2 linked regions of the Homo sapiens genome follow. The protein of the gene in region 2 interacts with the protein of the main gene of each other region in a pairwise test. Each region holds a gene or a part of one and is shown on either strand. Other genes may lie near its edges.

Region 1 (3,756 bases), on a different chromosome or scaffold from region 2:
GAAGCAGTTCCTAATTTCCAGTTTCTTCCTTCCTTGGGGTTGGGGACCTCCTGGCTGAGAGCTGGAGGCTGGCCATACTCACGGCTCCATTCTGTATGGCCTTCCACCTCCTGCAGAGGGCAGCACAGATAGTGGAAGAGGCCTTGTCCCTGGAAAACCAGCCTGGGGCTGGGGCTGCTATCTCAGCCTCAGCCCCAGCTCTGCCATCTTGAGAGCCAGCAGCTCCAGAGGGCAACTGGGGACCACTACTCTGGCCACCTTTTGTCCTTAGCCTCCAGCAGCTTGTTCCTCAGGAGCCAGCACCTCCGCTGGGCTCACAGGGTACACTGCGGCCTCCTCAGCCCTCCCCGTTCTCCTGCTCCTAAACCCACAGCCCAGCCTTCCCTTCCTCTGAGCAGAGCAGCCCTGGCTGTGGGGGCTATTTCCTTATGGGATTCTCTGGCCAGAGAAAGGAGTAGCTGACTAAGCCTGGGAGAGGGTTTGTCACAATAAAAGAATACTTACTAACCTCTTGTCTGTTTACCATAGATTTATTGACAGCTACTACTCGCCAGGTGTGCTGGAGTCAGGTGGGGCTGGGGCTCACAGCTCTCTACCTGTTTAAGAGGGGCTGGCAGTGAGGATTTCTGCCTACCTCATGGGTGGGGCAGGCAAGGCTAATAGACAGCTCATTTCCTGCATCTGCCACTCCGACGCACCTTCTTCCCTCGGTTCCACCCCTCATTCAGCCAAAGCGCTCTGACTGAGTCCCAGAGGCCTCCCGTTTGCATTTCTGGCTCAAAGTCTGCAGCTGGCCCTTTCCATGCAGCTGGAGTTCTGCAGTCCATGGAACCTGCCACCATGATAGTCCAGATCAGGCCACAGTAATGGTGGCTGGGCTGGGAGCCTGAGATGTTAGCAGGAAGAGAGCTGCTGGGGCAGAAAGGTTGCTGAGGGTGAGCGTAGAGTCTCCTGTGCTAAATCCCCGCAGCTGAACAGCACTTGAAGGTTACAAAACTCTTTCACTCTTGTTCTCTTATTGTGATCCATGAGGTAGCTGTTATCCCCATAAGAGAGGAGGAAGCTAAGGCCAGAGAGGGGAAGTGCTAGGTCCATCCGCTCACTGCCAGCACTTCATGGCCCAGGGGCTTCCTGGAGGCAGCAGAGCTGGAAGTGGGTTCGGCCCACTCAAAGGGTAGACTGTTGCCCCTGGGTCTTACTCACTGAGCTTGTGATGCAGAGTGAAATTCCTATCACGGTGAGCACCATGCCAGCAACTGCTCCTGGGATAATAGGCAGAAATCAGGAGGGTCTGAGCTCAGCCATGCCAGTAGGAGCTGGTACAGGGCTGGAGGAAGGGCTCAGATGGGGTCTGGTCTTCAATCCCAAACCCCAGCCTCTGTCTTTCTCCAGACTGTCCAGGGGAAGGGAACTCTGATGGCCACAAGGAAGCAAAACAGCTGCAGAGGAAAGGGCAGGATGGGAAAAGGCCGTGTCCTCACCCACTCTGGGGAGATGGGTTCTGGGAAGGAACTAACACAGGTATGTCGAGATCCACAGAGCTGCGTCCCGCACTCGCAGTAGTCTAACTTACGTTTTCCACCAATATCTTCTCCAAGGGCCTTCCCAACAATCAGTGTGAAGATGATAGCCAGAGAGTTACAGATGGGCACAGCCAGGGTCAGATCTGGGTGGTCAGAATGAAAAGAATGCCTGAGATGCAACAAATGCCTTTCTAGGCACAAAACACTTCCATCATCATCATTTCATACCTTTAAAAAAGGTATCAAAACCCCATCTTCCAGATGAAGTCACAGCAAATCTCAGGACTCAAACCCACATCTCCTGACTCCACGTTCAGTGCTTCCCAGGATTCCAGCATGAAGACCTGAACTCTGAGGTCTGGGACCAGCCTGGTTTGATAATGAGAATGAGGTCTTTGCACTCAAAGAGAACTCGTGAGATCTCAAGGACATCTGGACGGACAGGCAGGCACCCAAATCCCAAAGGATGAGTAGAGAGTCAGGTAACACCAAGCACAGCCACCATTTATTAAGCACATACCATGGCCTAGGTGCTTTGTGTACATATCTCAGTTTTCACAACACTGCAAGAAGGGGATTATCACCATTTTGCGTAAAAGAAACAAAGGCTCAAAGAAGTCACATAAACTAAGGCAAGTTGAGGATTTAAACCAAGGCTTGCCTGACTCCAAAGCCTGCGCCGTTATTAAACTGTGGATATAGACAGAGCAGAACATCAGATGAAGCACATTTTGTTTCTGTTTCAGCCCAAGCTCAGGCCTTATGGAGTTAAAAATAAAAAGTGTCAGAAGGAAGGAGCAGGACCTGTTCAGGACATTGGGCTGGACCTGTGGTGTGGGTAGAGGGCATCATAGCCCAGGATCTGTTCCTTAATTTTGAAGTTCCAAGGGGCTGACTGCCAATAAGCAAACTTGAAAAAGAGTAATGGAGTTGGCTGGGTGCAGGGTGGCTCACGCCTGTAATCCCAGCACTTTGGGAGGCTGAGGCGGGCGGATCACCTGAGGTCAGGAGTTCAAGACCAGCTTGGCCAACATGGTGAAACCCCGTCTCTACTAAAAATACCAAAAATTAGCCAGGCATAGTGGCGGACGCCTGTAATCCCAGCTACTCAGGAGGCTGAGACAGGAGAATCGCTTGAACCCAGGAGGCAGAGGTTGCACTGAGCCAAGATCACACCACTGTACTCCAGCCTGAGAAACAAGAGTGAAACTCTGTCTCAAAAAAAAAAGAAAAAGACTAATGGAGTTAACTTAAAATTTGTTGAGGGTAGATCTCCTGTTAAGTGTTCTTATCACATCAAAAAAAGAGCCACAGCCAGGCGCAGTGGCTCATGCCTGTAATCCCAACATTTTGGAAGGCTGAGACGGGCGGATCACCTGAGGTTGGGAGTTAGAGACCAGCGTGACCAACATGGAGAAACCCCGTCTCTACTGAAAATACAAAATTAGGCTGGGTGTGGTGGCTCACGCCTGTAATCCCAGCACTTTGGGAGGCCGAGGCGGGTGGATCATTTGAGGTCAGGAGTTCAAGACCAGCCTGGCCAACATTGTGAAACCCCGTCTCTACTAAAAATACAAAAATTAGCCAGGCATGGTGGTGCATGCCTGTAGTCCCAGCTACTTGGGAGGCCGAGGCAGGAGAATTGCTTGAACCTGGTAGGCAGAGGTTGCAGTGACCAGAGATTGCACCACTGCACTCCAGCCTGGGTGACACAGCAAGGCTCCATCTCAAAAAACAAAAACAAAAGAACAAAATTAGCCAGGCGTGGTGGCACATGCCCATAATCCCAGCTAGTGGGGAGGCTAAGGAAGGAGAGTCACTTGAACCTGGGAGGCGGAGGTTGCAGTGAGCCAAGATCGCACCATTGCACTCCAGCTTGGGCAACAAGAGCGAAATGCCGTCTCAAAAAAAAAAAAAAAAAGCACCACATACACATAAAAAAGACCAATGGACGAATCAGCTGAGTTATCCATGGTAACAAGACTCAACTGCAGACCAGATGTTCACACTGGCTCCTCAGCAAATTCTTTCCCAGCACTCCCAGGGCTCGCCTGTGTGAGGCAAAGGAGCAAACTGTCCTGCTCCTCATCCCCTGGGAGGCCCCAGCATGGAGGCATTACCCATCTAAGAAATTGATACAACCCCACTTACAAAGAGCTGCTTTCTTTTTTGGTTGTTTTTCGTTTTTGTTGTTGTTGTTTTGAGACAGGGTCTCTCTCTGTTGCTCAGGCTG
Region 2 (2,553 bases):
GACTGTCTGACCCAAAATATGTGGCTGGAACCAGAAAGGATATAAGCATGGTTTGAGAAGGAAAAAAAGCTTAACAAGGGGGAATTGAGGAAGCCATTTGCAAAACTTCACAGGAAAGTTAAATGAATGAATGAATAAAATGTGATTAATAAATATGGGGGCCAGGTACAGTGGCCTGCATCTGTAATCCCAGTGTTTTGGGAGGCCAAGGCAGGAGGTGCACTTGAGGCCAGGAGTTCAAGACCTGAGCAACACAGCAAGACCCCCGTCTCTATAAAAAATTTTATAAAATTAGCCGGGCATGGTGGTAGACACCTGTAGTCCCAGCTACTTGGGAAGATGAGGCAGAGGATTGCCTGAGCCCAGGAGTTTGAGGTTATAGTGAGCCATGACTGTGCCACTGCACTCCAGCCTGGGCAACAAAGTGAGACCCTGACTCTAAAAGTAAAATTAAATTAAATTAAAAATAAGTGGATAAATATGGGTTATGCTGTGAAGCATAGAGGGAGGGATGAAGAGGGACATTTTAAGCCACTTCTCTGGCCCCAGTTTCTAACATTATTTCTAAAATGCAGGATATCTGGTTATCCCAAACCAGTTATATTTTTATTTAAATTTGCTCAAAATTTTTATTTTTAAATCTTAACAATTTCTAAAATCACACTTTTTAATTTATTTTGTATTTTTTTGAGACAGGGTCTTACTTTGTCACCCAGGCTGGAGTGCAGGGGCACAAACATGGCTCACTGCAGCCTCGACCTCCCAGCCTCAAGTGATACTCCCGCCTCAGCCTCCCAAGTAGCTGGGACTACAGGCATGCACCACCACACCTGGCTAATTTTTTTATATTTTGTTTGTAGAGATGGGGTTTCACCATGTTGCCCTGTCTAGTCTTGAAACCTTGAGCTCAAGAGATCTGCCCACCTTGGCCTCTCAAAGTGCTGGGATTACAGGCGTGAGCCGTCCTGCCTGGCCTAGTCACACTTTTTTTTTTTTTTTTTTTTTTGGAGACAGAGTTTCACTCTTGTTGCCCAGGCTGGAGTGCAATGGCATGATCTGGACTCACCGCAACCTCCGCCTCCTGGGTTCAAGCGATTCTCCTGCCTCAGCCACCCAAGTAGCTGGGATTATAGGCATGCACCACTATGCCCGGCTAATTTTGTATTTTTAGTAGAGACAGGGCTTCTCCATGATGGTCAGGCTGGTCTCGAACTCCTGACCTCAGGTGATCTGCCCGCCTCGGCCTCCCAGTGTTGGGATTATAGGCATGAGCCACCGCGCCCAGCTAGTCACGCTTTTTAGTCAAGATTTTTAAAAATGTCTGCATGCTTTTCTGAGAGCCTTACCTCTCTTGTGATTTGAAGCATTTTCTCCACCAGGCCTAAGGCTGAAGGAATGTAGTTTGCTGCCCTTCAGTCTATGACAAGGAGGTCTGTTTCCTCCAACGCCTGCCTTTTAGACAGAGTGTTGATTCACAGGGAACAGAGGCAGACCTGGGGCTGACACTGAATGAATGCTACTCACAGCAGTAAGGGGAAAAGTGGGAAAGTCTTGTTTATGCTGTGGCTGATGTGGATGTCTTTGGGGAAGAAAAATTCAGGATGAGTTTATTGAGAGCATTATTTTTGAAAGTATAAGATTTGTGATTGTAATATAAACTTAAATCACTTTGGGAATGAATTTAAAAAATCTATGTGACACAAATTAATCATCATTCTCATTGTAAATTTGGCAAAGTATTTGTAATTAGGAATATCTGTCATACTGGCACTGGGCAAATTATTCTGAATGTTCCCATGCTGAAGATTCTCTCAAAAAGGGAAAAAACAAGATCCTTTGTTTGTATAAGTACAATCAGTTTGCTGAATAAAACCTTTATAGCTACAATTATAACAGGATTGTTTCTACATTTTAGCTTGGAGATCCCATGACTACTCTGTTTTGCTAATAATAAACCAATACAGTGCTACAGAGATGTTTCTTTCATTAATGTGTTGCCTTCCCTTGCCTTGCCTTGCCTTGCCCTGCCTTGCCCTGCCTTGCCCTGCCTTGCCCTGTCTTGCCTTGCCTTGCCTTGCTTTCTTTTTTTGAGACAGGGTCTCACTCCATTGCCCAAAATGGGATGCAGTGGCATGATCTCGGTTCACTGCAATCTCTACCTCCCAGGCTCAAGTGATCCTGCCACCTCAACCTTCCAAGTAGCTGGGACCACAGGCATGCGCCACCATGCCAGGTTAATTTTTTGTATTTTTTTTTGGTAGAGATGGGGTTTCTCCATGTTGCCTAGGCTCATCTTGAACTCCTGAGCTCAGGCGATCTGCCTGCCTCGGCCTCCCAAAGTGCTGGGATTATAGGAGTGAATCACCGTACCCGGCCTCATTACTATGTTTTCTAAAGTTGTTTCATTCCTACCTTTCTCCTCGAAGCCCCTCAGCTTCAAATATTCAACAAACCATGATTCTGACCTCTATGCTTTCTTTATTCTCTTCGTAGCTCTGTGAGAGCAAAAAACTTACCTGTCCCCAGTGGGTAAAACAGTGTTGCACACAGTTT

The links. Proteins that work in one complex are often made in the same cells at the same time.
Region 1: the proteins of SLC35E3 (region 2) and TMEM234 interact in binary tests that used the Homo sapiens proteins (3 or more experiments, as listed by UniProt).

What each region holds. Positions count from the first base shown.
Region 1 is NC_000001.11:32,215,686-32,219,441, forward strand, and holds the end of TMEM234 (transmembrane protein 234 isoform a precursor), read right to left. Parts: intron 1,893-3,756; exon of another isoform or gene 1,752-1,892; intron 1,667-1,751; coding exon 1,574-1,666; intron 1,440-1,573; coding exon of another isoform or gene 1,282-1,439; exon of another isoform or gene 1,263-1,281; coding exon 1,168-1,262; 3' UTR 833-1,167; coding exon of another isoform or gene 725-832; 3' UTR 515-724; downstream 1-514. Other genes in the region: DCDC2B (doublecortin domain-containing protein 2B), read left to right, coding at 117-212.
Region 2 is NC_000012.12:68,779,498-68,782,050, forward strand, and holds the end of SLC35E3 (solute carrier family 35 member E3), read left to right. Parts: 3' UTR 1-1,971; downstream 1,972-2,553. UniProt on the Homo sapiens protein: Putative transporter.